Linked DNA regions of Homo sapiens. The protein of the gene in region 1 interacts with the protein of each later gene in a pairwise test. Each region holds a gene or a part of one and is shown on either strand. Other genes may lie near its edges.

Region 1 (5,055 bases):
TCAGAGCCTGTGTTTGCTCTTGAGCTGTGGCTGCTCTGGGGTCCAGGTGGGAAGTCTGAAGTCACCTCTGGATCTGCTCTGGGTGGAGGGTGCCTCCATCCCACCCAGGCCCACAGGCTGGCCTCGCCCTTGCTCTGCAGCAAGCCCATCCAGGTGCCCTGCTCAGAGCCACCAGCATTAATAGCTGATGGTTTAATACCCTCAGGAGCCAGCGCACTCAAGCAGCAATCAGAAGGCCCCATCACCGCTGCTGTGTAATTGCGCCCGATCACTCGCACAGCGAGCGCTGATTGCGGCTCAGAGATGGCTCAGCTTCCAGGCTGATGGGCTGGAGCCCTTGGAGGCCTAATGAGGGTAATTGAGGATGGGCTGATTGTGCCGGAAAAAAGCTGAAGGGGACTGAGCCATGAGAACAGGCTGCGTCACACCCTAAACGGGACCACATTTGCTAAATTTGTTTCCGACACAATTTCGTGGTGATTACACTGATTTCTCTTGAGTTACTGAGCCTGGCACAGAGCTTGTGCTTGCAGCCCCACTGTCAAGATGCGCCTGTTTGAGAGTGGGAGGTATTGTTGATGACTTATGGGCCACTGTCAGCCCTGGGAACGAGTTCATGGAGAGGCTGGTGGGAGACAGGTGGGAGCTTGGGGGCGGTGGGGAGGGCCTGGGGTCCCAAGGGCCTACGTTTGGGCGGGCTGCTGCTTACCACCATGTGGCTGGGACACATTGTGCAACCTCTGTGTGCCTCAATTCCTCAGCTGCAGGTGCAGCTGCCCCTAACCTCCCAGGGTTGCCGGGAAGTCCCAGTGAGTTCACTTACAGGCAGTGCTCAGACGGTCCAGGTTGGGGTCTGCCTGGAGGCGCAGCTGCAGAGCAGGTGCCCAGGGCCCTTGGGGATGTGTCACACCTGACCCTGCACCCACCCTCTGCGGCAGGAGCAGCCACCCCTGTTGAGCCATGGATGAAATGAGCCCAGGGACGGGGCCACTGACCAAAGCCATGCACTGGCAGAAGCTGCATCCACACCTCCATCATTAGTATCTGTACACATTTTCATGAGATGAAGCAGCATAGCCTGTCTCTGCTGGAAAGACCAACATTTCTCAAACCCGGTTCCTTGGCTGCGAGTCTGGGAAACACAATTCCAGCCTTGGCTACTGAAGGCAGGGGGCCCAGGACTGCAGCCTCAGCTCCCCCAGGCTGTCGCTCATGGGCCCCTCGGGGTCAGAATCTGATTTTAGTTAACAAGGCACCCAGGAATTCCTGCCTCACGGCATGGGCTGGAAGCCACTGCTCTGAGCTAGGGGTCACGGGAGAATCGCCTGGGAAGCATCTAAAAGTGACCACCGCTCAGACCCCTGAAGCTCCAAGGCTCCAGTGGGGGTCAGGCACTGGTGTTTTAGTCTCCGCCAAGGGCTCCAATGTGTCACCTGGGCTGAGCGCACCCAACTCACAGAGTGTGGCCATCTGTCCTGGGTGTGGCTGAGTCTCCCAGGGAGATATGCTTCCGTGTTTGGGATGTGGCTGCACTCCTGCGGCCGCCCCTGCTTCCCAGCAAGGAAAACCTGGAGCCAAGAGCTTTTAGCAAAAATGTTTAATCTCTCCTTAATGTGTGTGTTTATTTACAAGTACTAAATCTGAAGAACAGTAAAATAGGAAATAGCCGTATATGTACACATCTGAGGGCCGGGCCCACAGTCAGCGGTGCTGCTTCTGCAAAGAGCCCGGCTGAGGGTGCCCGCCCGGACCGTCCGAGGGATCGCTCTTCTTCTGGGAGGGGGTTCTGCGGTGTTAAAGGACAGCTAATTGTGGGCTTTGTCTTAAAAATATCTCTCTCTCTAAATATATCTATTCTAGCTGTGTAGCACCAACGTGAGCCACTGAATCCAGACAGGGAGAAAGCCAGGGCGGAGGCTCTCAGCAAGGCCGAGCCGAGATGGCACGCCGCTCCGGGCTCTCTCCCGGACTCGACGCTGCAGGTCGTGGGGCCCCCAGCCCCTCAGGCCAAGGGGCCAGTGGTCCTGGGGCTGGGGAGCACAGGGGAAGCTCGAGGTATATCAAGAGGCCAGGCTCCCAGGCCGAGGCGTGAGCTTTTCCAGCACTCCTGAGCCAGGCGCGGGGAGAGGGAGGACACGGAGCAGGGTAGGAGGTGCTGCAGGAAGCAAGTGGCGGCAGCAGCACGCCAGGTGGGTGCCAGTTTCACAGCACATGTGCCGCAGCCCTGGCTCCCTGCAGACACAGGGCCCATGGGAGCCGCTCACCGCTGCTGGGCACAGAACGGCCTCCAACTGCAGCTCCTACCAGGGCCTCCAGCCCCAGGCCAGAGCTCCCAGGTGCTGCACAGTTAGGAGCACAGTGGGAACCAGTGACAAGTAGGGACTGGGGCCTAACTCCACGACCTGGCAGAGGGAGGTACGGAGTAGCTCGGAGACTGCTGTCCCAGTAGACAGCACAGGTAGTCGGCTTGATCCTTGCGCATGTAAACAGATACTGCTAAAGTGCTTGCGCCTAGACACAGCCATGTGCTCTGTGGTGGCCACGCCCCAGCCACACGCCCATGTGGGAACTGCTTCATGAGGCCTGTGGTGCACCCCCTTCATCACCACTGCCGTCCCCACCACCCGCCCATGCTACTCACATGGACAAGGGCAGCCTGGCAGGGCAGAGCAGAGCACAAGGCCTAAGGAGAGTGGGGGTTGGAACTGGATTCTGAAGGTGATGCAGGAGCCCCTACCTAACCCGTGAGGAACTGGAAGAACCAGGGACTTCAACCTGAAGCCAGCATCCAGGGAAGACTTTGGGGGAAACTGAGGTTCCCACCCCACCATAGCCAGGAAACATCAGAAGGGAGGTGGAGGCGCACCCAGGAACAGGAATCCCAGCCAATGCTAGGGGCTACTGAAAAAAACAGCCCAGCCACTGTAATATGGACTGGCCTCAGCTCTGGCCCCCAAGACTGCCCAGGGAGTAAGCCCACCCCCTCAGTGGGCTGGGGGCAGGGGCTGGCCCAGGCCTGAGCTGGGTGTGGCAGCAGCAGAAGGCCCCAGCCCTGGCACAGTGCCCACGGGGCCAAGGAGCTCCCTGAGTCAGCAGTCACTGACTCCACACCGACCCGCGTTCAGGGAAGAGGCGGGTCTCTGTGGCGTCATCTGGCTCACGCTACTCAGCTGGGGCGGACTGCAAGACTGGCACACCCCATGGGGCCGAGTCCTCTCCTTGGGCCTGGCCAAGGACATGGGGCTGAGTCTGGCCACAGTTAGCTGTCCCTTAATGTCCATGGGATCTTCGGTACCATCAAAAAAGTGACCTTGAAAAGGGGATGGACCGCTTGTTTGCTTTTACAAGTGACTGATTAATTAAAAAACATAAAAAAGGGTCTAACAACCTCTAGTATTCAACACTTGCAGTTTTAAAAAGATCAACTCAGACTAAACGCTAGCACAATCATGCATGCCCCGTGGTGCCGCGGCACCCCAGAGGCTCTCAGGGTCAGCAGGAAGTCCTTTCCTTGTCATGTCAAACCAAAACAGCGGCCCGCAGGTCGGGGGGCACAGGCTTCAGGGCTGCTCCACTCCAGGGAGGCTCCGGCCACTTTCTCCACAACCATTTGGCATTGCTTTCCCACTGCCTTCATTTTCTTGTTCAAATCGTCTTTAAAATTCTTCTTCAGTTAACTGTACAGTACCCCACTGGGGCTGGAGCCTGAGGCTAGAGCCACATATATATATATGCATATATATACATGTACAGCTTTCTTTTAAGAATGCATTCTCTCTTGCTGAGGGCAAGGGTGGACACCGCTGGCCTCCAGTCCCTCTGGTCACTGCCCGTCACTCATGGCCCAGATAGATCCAGGCCACTGCGGGCCAGAGGAGCCCTGCCACAGACCTCAAGGCCCAAGCAGAGTGCAGCAGAATTTTTTCCCCTAAACACAAAAACAGTCCCCAGATGTCCCACTGCTCTGGAGGGGCCAGGACACTGCTGAGATGCCACACTGGAAGCCGCTGGGGCAGGGACAGAGAGAGTGGAGAGAGAGGAGTGCTCAGGGGCCGCCCTCAGGGGCTCCAGGGTGGGGAGCTCAGCCTACCCTTGAAGACAGCTGCCAGGGCAGCCTGTGTAGGACGCGGAGGGGAATAAATAACGGGAACGTGCTCTCTGCGACCCGGGGCCCCTGGCCCAGTGGCTCCCAGAGGCACAGCCCTGAGGACGGAGAGGGGCTGCCCGGTCCGTCTGGAAGCCACCCAGGAGTCTGAGCAGCCTGGCCCACAGCCCCTCCATAGGAGGGAGCAGAGCCTCTCTGGGGCGAGGTGGATGTGGTGCTCCGGCCTCGGCCGCGCAGAGCACGCGGTGAATCTGAGGATGGCAGCGGTGCAGCGGGCATGGGTGCTGGAGGTGGGAGTCGGTGGCAACGGGCCCAGACCGACTTGAGCTCCTCTTGCCCGGCTACGGGCTTTTTGCCTCTTTCTCCAGCTGCCAACCGGGCCCCGGGACCCTCAGACTCTGCCGCCTGGGGGCAGCTTGGAAAGCTGGGAATGCTGACACCCCCAGCCTCTTGTCCTGGTCTCAAGGGGACAGCCCAAGCTGGCTACCCCTCCCCCTGGAGGGCCCTGGCCTCACCCCTCAGCCCCTCAGAGGTCAGCCCTTCTCCCATGAAGGCCACTGGGCAGCTCTTGCCAGGCAATGAAGGTCCTTGGCCAGCCTGAGCACCCAGTGCTGTCCCGGCCCCTGAGCAAGCAGCTGTGTGCGCAGCTGTGGTGTGGCAGGTACCATCACCTCCACACAGGAAGAGCCGGGACCCGACCGGGTGAGGCAGGGGAGGGAGGGCCGGGCAGTCGCTGCACTGCGGCGGCCCGAGCACCACCGGACACTCCACACGCATGCGGTGAGGGCTGTCCCGGTCCCTGCTCAGCTGTCCTCACGCTGCATCATGCTGGATGATCACAGCTGGGGCTCAGCTGCTCAGGGCCATCGTGTCCACCACCTGCTCCAGCTTGCTCCGCAGCCGCTGCCGCCGCGCCTGCTCATCCTTCTCCAGGGCTGCCAGGATCTGCA
Region 2 (8,140 bases), on another chromosome or scaffold:
AGCCTGGGAGACAGAGTGAGACCCTGTCTCAAAAAATAAATAAATAAGGTGCTTTGTACTGGTTTAGAGGGCTGGGTACCCCAGAGAGAACGATGCCACCGGGGCACATCATGAGTCTTCCACTGAGCCATGGAGCTGTGTCCCTTGAGACAGGGGAAGAGGCTCCTGCCGCTGGCCACACTCTACTCTCATGTTTGAGCAGTGAAGGGCCCGGCCATGGTGACAGCTAAGCTTGGTCTCAGGAGGCCAGCAGAGGCGAGGATCCTGAGCCCCAGCAACAATGTGACAGCAACACCCAAGGCAGCCAACAGCCAGGCCTGGCAGGGTGGGTGGAAGGCCCGGGCTCTGGGAAGGGGCAGGGAAGCATCAGGACTGTGTGGCTGGGCCACACCCGGGCCCGCCTGGCAGGTCGCTCCTAGCACCTCCCACAGTGTGACGTGGACAGGGGAAGTAAGTGTTCCGCGAAATAACAAAAGGTGCTCTTGATTTTCAGGTTTTATTTGCCTGTTATAATTCTGATATTATGTACATATATATATATACTTTTGTTTTTTTGTAGAGGGCTTATCAGTAGACCAAGCACAGGCATACAGGGAGGCTGTGGCTGCTGAGCAGTGCTGGGAGAACCAATCTTTCCTTTTTTTTTGTCTGTTTTTATTTTTCCTGGGATGGGTTCATCAAAGCTAATTGCTATCAATCCTAGAAACCACCTAGGGACTCAGACATCTGCCTACACACTAGTGGCGTAAAGGGAAGGACAGGGGTACAAACTTTCAAAGTCACGGTGTATTTACATTCCCAAGGTGGGGGCGGGAGGAGGCTGAGGAAGACAACTGTTCAGACGATAGGGAGGGCAGGGCTGCTAAGGGGTCCTGGGGGGTGGGGGCGGCTGGAAGAGGCCGGCCAGTGGGCAGTGGGAGGAGGTGTGCCCGCCCCGCAGCCAGGTAGTGACGGAGGCCACTTGGATGTTGTGTGGTGGGTACCGAAGGCAGCGTGTGTATGGAGCTCCTGAAAGCCGGCCATGGGGTGGGCTGGGCGGCGGGAAGAGGCGGTGCTGCCAGAGTGCGATGCTGGGAGTGGGGGGACTCTGGGCTCTCCAGATGGCCTCCCCTGCCCCCGCGGCCAGTTTGCCCGGCTCCCATCCCGGTTGGAGCAGAGATGGCAAAGAAAAGACAGCAGATGGTGGGGACACCGAGTTCTGTTCCCAGTCCCAGCCAGGCTGGCTGGGGAGTGGCTGGGGGAGGGGGAAGGTGCCAACCCTGGTCCTGAGGAGACCCCACCATGTCTGCCCCCAGTCAGGGAGCAAGAAAGACAGCATTTCGGAGACCCTTTCGGGCCACCCCTACTTCTTCTCCCCCAAACCACAGCCTCTCTGCCCAAATGGGCTGGCAAAACAGCACCCAAAGGCCCCTGGCATGTGGGAGATCTGCCCAAGCTGGGGCAGAGCAGCGTGTGCCCAGGAAGGGGTGCAGCTGGGTTTTGGCAATAAAGTGGGGACCGGGTGGTAGGAAGGGGATCCGAGGCAGCAAGTTCTCCTCTGCCCCAACTCCAGCCTCCCATGGGCCTGCTGGAGAGGGAGGGGCCTGGATCCCAAGGCCAGGGGCACAGCATCTCCTGTCCTGGACTCCACTATTCTAGGGCCACGGCAGGGTTGATGGGGGAAGTGGCCCCTGAGCTGTCATTGCCCCCTGCCGCCTCCTTCTCCTTCTTGCCACTGTACTGGCCAATGAACGAACCATCCTCGTTGAACTGAACATCCACGCTGCCCCCATAATCGGCCAGGCTGTCGTCACTGCCCAGGGGCTTGATGTCCCCGTTGAGCGATGGCTGGCTGCTGCCAAAGGCCTTCTCCTCGTTGTCACTGCAGAGGCACAGGGCAGGTGCGAGTGAGAGCACTGCCGAGCCCCTGCAGGAGCCTGGCTGGGGGTGAGGCAGACGCCCGCCTGCCTTCCATTTGTTTAGAATGCGCTCAGAAAGAGCAGCTCTGGCCACCCTGGCAGGCAGGTCTGGAGCTGTCATCTTTGGGCATTCCCCAGATCCTGGGGACTGTGAGGGAGAAAATGTGCGCTCGGCCAGGGGATTATGGGGCCTGGTTCCTGTCTGGGAAGCTGTCTGGGGCCTCCCTTGGGGAGAGGGGAGCAGTGAAGGTATCTGTGTGGAGAGGAGGGGCTGGGGCGTGTTGGCCTCTCCCTGAAATGAGGAGCTGCCGGGCCTGGGGGCTGGGAAGTGAGAGTCCTGTCAGAGCCCCGGCAGCCAGGGGACAATGGCACACCAGGCGCACATTGTCTATAGGGAGACCTTGCTGTTGGCCCCTCCCCACCGCCCCTGCCTTACCTCTCCAGGGACCTGAAGTCACCCGGCAGCACAGAGAAGAGAGAGAGGGGGTGAGATGTGAAGGCCAGGGTGGAGCTGAGTGCCAGCACCCACTCCTGCCCCGGCTCACCTGTACTCGCCGAAGGTCTCATCTTTCATCGGTCGGGCCTCAGAGTCCACCTGGGTGTCCTCCTTATCCTTCACTGGAGACACAGAGAGGGACAGCTTCTTCTCCCGCCCCAGCCTGACCCGGGGCTCCAGGCCCCTCTACGCCCCGCACCCCCAGCACTCTGTCTCAACAGCGCCCAGAGGCAAGAGGCCTTGAAAGAAACCGCTCACCCCCTGCGGTCCAGCCACCACTTGCCTGTTGCCCCAACCCCGGCCTGGGAGGATGATCCCCCTGCCTGCCCCCACCATGCGCCTGTCATCTTGTGGGGAGCTCGGGGAATCCAGGAGGCCTTGCAGAAGGGTGGAAGGGGCGAGGTGCTCCTCTCTGCCCTCGGCTCCACCCCCGTCACGTGGGGCTCAGAGGCTACCTGAGTATTTGCCGCCCTTGCTGCGCTTGATGAAGCAGAGGATGAGCAGGACGAGGAGCAGGAGGATGATGGCACTCACAAAGCCGATGAACCAGCCCTCAGTGGCGAAGCCAGCAGGAGGGAGCCTCACGCGGCCTGAGGGTGAGACACCAGCCCCCCGTGCTGCCGCCCAAGCCAGAACCCGACCTGAGGCCCTGAAGTATGCTCTTAAAGTTGGGGCCCTCTGGGGGGCTAAGGAGTGACAGGGACAGGGAAAAGGGCATCTGCGGAAAGGGTATGAAAGGGGGCTGATTCGGGGACACCCAGATTCTGGGAGGAGAAGCAGACAGGAGCCGTGGAGGGAGCCTGGGCAGTAGTGGCCATTCAGGGGACAGAAGGACATGAATTGTGCAGCCCCCATGCTTCCCTGGCAGGTGATGGCGGGCCCCCGGCGCCTCACCTGTGCCATTGGTCTTCACAGCCATTTGGTGCCGGAACATCCTCTCCTTAAACAAGTGGATCTCGTAGTCAGTGTCAGGCTGCAGGTCCCACTGCGTGTAGGAGCTCTGGTTGTAGCTGACATACTGTGGCGAAAGGGAAGCCCCACCCTTCTCTTCTGCCAGGGAGAGAGGGTGGCAGCAGGGGTGAGTCGGAGTGCCAGGCAACCCCTCTGGCCCAGAGCCCCCTTCCCCACCACGCCCCAAGGCCCCCTTTCACGCTTACCTCCCAAGGCTTTGAACAAGATATGGAACCTGAAGTTGCACTGGCCCTCCTTGGGGACCCAGGAGACGACACTGTAGTTTTCACCCGCTGTGGCTGAGATGTTGCCAAAATCTGAGATCCCTGGGGGGATGCAGGGGAACGAGGAGAGTGTGGCAGCTGCCAGGAAGTCTAAGGCCCTCCCTCCTGGACCCGGCTGGCCGGGGCCTCCCTGTTGGCAGGTCATTCCTCCAGCTTACCAGACAAGGCCATAGTGCCTCCTTCCCGTACGATGGCTTCACCAGGGCCCTCTTTGGTGGTGGCCTGAAGCTGGAAGCGGTACCGCAGGTGGGGGCTGAGATCGGTCAGGTTGTGTGTCCGAAGTTCGGGGTCCCGAAGGTTGAAGGACAGTTGCCCCTTGCCCCCCTCATCCACTGTGGGGACAGACAGGGGTTGGCTGTGGCTGCAGCTCTGCCCCCTCCCCGTGGCCCCTCCACCTCCCTTCCCTGCTGGGGCGGCGCACGCACGGGGGTGGTAGGAGAGCACGTAGCCGGTGAGCACGCCGTTGTGGCTGAGTGGGGGCTGCCAGCGCAGCAGCAGGCTGGTGTTCGACTGGCACTCCAGGTGCAACGCCTCGGGGTGGCCAGGCACTGCAGGGCACAGAACCGAGTGGCAGGTAGGTCCTCGCCCAGGTCTGGGGAGGAGGGCAGGGGATGAGGCGTGGGGTGCAGGACTCACCTCCCTCTGGGGTGCTGAAGGTGAACTCGCTGGCGGGCCCCGATCCTCGCCCGTTAAAGGCCTGCACCTCCAGGTGGTAGGAGCTATAGGGCCGCAAGCCACTGAGGATGACACTGGTGGTGTTGGCGGGCACCACCACATGGTCTTTGTGGATATGTCTCTTGCTGTGCTTCCTCTGACTGCCCTCCCTCCAGTACGTCACCTGCACAAGCGAACAGGAGACCTCGCAGGGGCAGAAGGCACCCAGCAGGGCCCCCAGCGCACACCCCCACCACCCTTAATGGGGACCCTCCTCTCAACCCAAGTCTTCCAGGAGAGCGGCTGGCAGGTGGCAAAGCCCCCTCACCATCCTGTCGCTTTACCTCAGTGATCACCCTCCTGGGCCCCCATGCCTTCAACCCTTACATTGTATCCGCGGAGGTGGCCCTTGACCTGGGCCAGGTCCACCGGCCGCCACTTGACCAGCACGGCACTTGAGTTGAGGATTTCAATGCCTTCCAGCTCAGGGATTGCCTGGGGGTCTGGAAACCACCAGTGACTTGGATAGAGCCATAGGCTCTCACCCCAGCCCTGAGGCCAGGCCCAAGCCCCTACACACAGAGAAGACGAATTCGGATATTTTATGAGGTACAGTTTGAGGAGGAGAGGTGTGTTTGCATGGTCTCAAGATCTCTTCCTGGACTGCTTATTAGTTGCAAAGGTGAAAATAGTAGCTTATACAAAGGAGAAACCATGGCTGGGCGTGATGGTTCACACCCGTATTCCCAACACTTTGGGAGACAGAGGCGAGTGGAACATTTGAGGTCTGGAGTTCGAGACCAACCTGATCAACATGGTGCAACCGCATCTCTACTAAATACGAAAATTAGTTGGGTGTGGTGGCGCGTGCCTGTAATCCCAGCTAATCAGGAGGCTGAGGCAGGAGAATCGCTTGAACCCGGGAGGCAGAGGTTGCAGTGAGCCAAGACCGCTCCACTGCACTCCAGCCTGGATGACAGAGCAAGACTCCATCTCAAAAAAAAAAAAAAAGAAAGAAAAGAAAAGAAAAGAAAAAAGAAAAGAAAAAAAGGAGAAACCAGAAAAAAAACTTGACCGGGTACTTCAAGTTACCATCTGGTCATGTTCCAGATTCAAGGAAATGAAAGAAGCAGCATTGGCTGATATAACTGGAATACCGCTGCCAATTATAGAAATGTGAAGTGTGGGGAATTTCATAACGTCGCTCTGGTTATGTAAGAGAATATCCTCATCCTTAGGAAAGGCGCACACCAATGCTGAGAGGTGTGGACATGGGCTGGGGTGGAAGCAGGCGAGCTCAACCGTGGGCGAGGGGCCCTGCCGGATACTCACAGTCCTCTCCAGAGTAGCCGATAGTGACCTGGGGCTCTGGTCCCTTGCCCTGGCTGTTGACGGCCTGGACTTTGATCTCATAGGGCACGAAGGTGGACGTGTTGGACACCACCAGGAAGGGGTCGCTGACAATCTGCTCCTGCCAGGGCCCTCGTGTCCCCTGAGGGCGCCACTGCACGCGGTACTGAACCTGGGGGGCGTTCCAGTCCATCCACCGGAGCGGCTGGAGGAGGCCAGCAGAAGAGGAGTTGGTTGGCCAAGAACACCAGCATTCTTTGGCCCGCCCCCCAGCACAAACCAGCATCCCCAGACATCAGCCCCTTCCTTTGCATAGCCAAGGGGGAGCAACAGACACCCAGGTCATGGCCTCATGTCCCCCAGGCAGCTCAGCCCAGGGACTCTCACCTTCCACGTGATGACCATATTGGTGGTCTCATTTCCTTCCCCCTTCACATCCACAGGGTTCTTCTCTGGGGCTGGAAAGGAAAGTATTAACACATCAATGCTGCAGCCTCTTTTGGAGAGCCACGAGGACCGAGGGCCAAGGAACAAATGGCTCATTCTGGCACCAAGGGAGTCCAGCCCCCTCGCGCTCCCCCTGGAAATTTGGAAGCAGAGGAACTTGGGCATGGCACCTCTCTAAGCCCTCCCTTCACAGCCCGGAGCCCCTTCCAGGTGGCATGGGAGTGGGTGCCACCCTGACTCACCTGCCTCAGGTGTGACCACAGTCTCAGAGACCGGGCTGGGCTCCCCGGGGCCATATTTGTTTATGGCAGTAACCCTAAAGGTGTAGTGGACATAGGGCGACAGCTTGAGGGTGGTAGAGGTCTGGTTCCCTGGAACCTTGCCCAGACTGTACCATTTTTCAGGCGCCATTTCCTTGTCCTCAAATTCAATGTCATATTCTGCCAAGAAATGAACCGACAATGGAGTGATCAGCATGTGGCTTTGGGGGAAGGGCTGTGGAGGGGTTGGGTACAGTCTGGGTCCCTGATTACCCAGGCCAACTGGCATCTCCAGATTCCCATGAGGAACCGTGAGTCCCCCCAAACCGTGTCCCCCCAGGAAGGCTCCAGGAGGAGGGAGGACCCCAGGAGGGGCCAGGGCTGGCAGAAGTGACGGTGGGGTGGCACTGAGCTCAAGCCTCTTACTCTCAATGGGGGCATTGTGGTCTTCTGCAGGACTCCAGGACACGCGCACCTGGCTCTGCGTCAGCAGGTGCAGGTCGGACAGCACCAGCCGTGGCACCGGCCCAGGGCTCCCTGAGGGTGGGGAGGGTCGGTGCTTGAAAGGGCCCAGGGATGTGAGCCCCGGCCTTCTGGAGTGGAGGCTTCCACCCTAGGACTTACCCACCACCAAGAGCTGTGCCCTACTCTCCACCACATCCAGTTCGGTACTGGCCACGCAGCTGTAGTTGCCCTGGTCGCTGTAGTCCAGGCTGTGGATGACCAGGCGCCCATCCTCTATGAAGTACCTGCGGAGGAGCCGTGTCTGTCTTTCCTGCCATCTGGGCTCTTCTCCCCTCCCATCCCTCCCTCCTGTCTCCTTCCCCCGCTCCTGTCAGAGCCTTCCCCATCAAAGCAAGGACGAGGCCAAGAGGTCTGGACTTCCAGCTTTTCCCACTCTGCCCCCTTTCACCGTCACTGTCCTCACTTGTCACTGTCCCCAAGCTCCTGGAGGTCTCGACCGTCCCCACGCCAGGTGATGCTGGGCTGCAAGGAGGGGTCAAAGGAGGCCTGGCACGTGAAGGTCACCCTGGAACCTTTCTTCTCGATTGTGCTGCGGGGCCCCTGAGTGATCTGAGTTGCATCTGAGGGTAATGCGTGCGTGGGGAAGTCACTCTGTTGTCCTCCAGAGGCCCAGACCCTCCCTCCCAGAGGCACTGCCAGCCATGTGGCAAGGGTTGCCTGACCTTTAACCTTCAGGTTAGCCATGATGGTAACATTGTTTTGGTCATTGGCAGCCAGGCAGAAGTAGCGTCCGGTGTCATTGGCCTGGAGGTCTCGAATGCCCAGGGTCCCATTGGCATAGGGGAAGAAGCGTTCGTCCTGAAGCACTGTTGTCCCATCCTCGTCCAGCCTGGAGGGAGCAGGGCGGGCCTGGCTCTGACTGGCTGGCCTGGGCTCCCTGCCCTCCCTGGCTCCCTGGCCACTGGGACACGACACTCACCACTACCAGGACGAGACACTCACCACTGAACACTGGGCACAGGCGCTCCGAAGGCCTTGCACAGAAGGTAGGCAGTGCTGCCCTGGACAGCCATGTACGTCTGATTGTCCGCAGTCAGGATCTTGGCTGGCAGCTCTAGGGGAGGAACAGCCTCAGGAGACAGGGCAGGACTTGGGACCACAGCTGGGCCAGGAGCCAGGGACCCTCTGCACGGCTTCCTCGGGCCCCCAAGAGCCCTGCAAATCTTGCTTCCCTGCTCCCAGCTGAGGCCCCCGCCAGGCTGTGTCTCTCTCTGCCTTCAGACACTGCCCTCTGCCTCAGATGCGCCTCTGGTCACAGCCACCCAACTTTTACGT

Evidence for each region. Proteins that work in one complex are often made in the same cells at the same time.
Region 2: the proteins of PLXNA1 (region 1) and L1CAM interact in a two-hybrid assay, tested with the Homo sapiens proteins (one study listed by BioGRID).

Annotation. Positions count from the first base shown.
Region 1 is NC_000003.12:127,033,917-127,038,971, reverse strand, and holds the end of PLXNA1 (plexin-A1 precursor), read right to left. Parts: intron 5,051-5,055; coding exon 4,955-5,050; 3' UTR 1,583-4,954; downstream 1-1,582. UniProt on the Homo sapiens protein: Coreceptor for SEMA3A, SEMA3C, SEMA3F and SEMA6D. Necessary for signaling by class 3 semaphorins and subsequent remodeling of the cytoskeleton. Plays a role in axon guidance, invasive growth and cell migration.
Region 2 is NC_000023.11:153,861,034-153,869,173, forward strand, and holds the end of L1CAM (neural cell adhesion molecule L1 isoform 1 precursor), read right to left. Parts: intron 7,920-8,140; coding exon 7,808-7,919; intron 7,695-7,807; coding exon 7,528-7,694; intron 7,426-7,527; coding exon 7,269-7,425; intron 7,090-7,268; coding exon 6,965-7,089; intron 6,878-6,964; coding exon 6,767-6,877; intron 6,521-6,766; coding exon 6,323-6,520; intron 6,092-6,322; coding exon 6,021-6,091; intron 5,839-6,020; coding exon 5,616-5,838; intron 4,787-5,615; coding exon 4,671-4,786; intron 4,468-4,670; coding exon 4,266-4,467; intron 4,178-4,265; coding exon 4,055-4,177; intron 3,962-4,054; coding exon 3,788-3,961; intron 3,672-3,787; coding exon 3,552-3,671; intron 3,445-3,551; coding exon 3,289-3,444; intron 2,985-3,288; coding exon 2,850-2,984; intron 2,517-2,849; coding exon 2,444-2,516; intron 2,347-2,443; coding exon 2,335-2,346; intron 1,862-2,334; coding exon 1,630-1,861; 3' UTR 483-1,629; downstream 1-482. UniProt on the Homo sapiens protein: Neural cell adhesion molecule involved in the dynamics of cell adhesion and in the generation of transmembrane signals at tyrosine kinase receptors.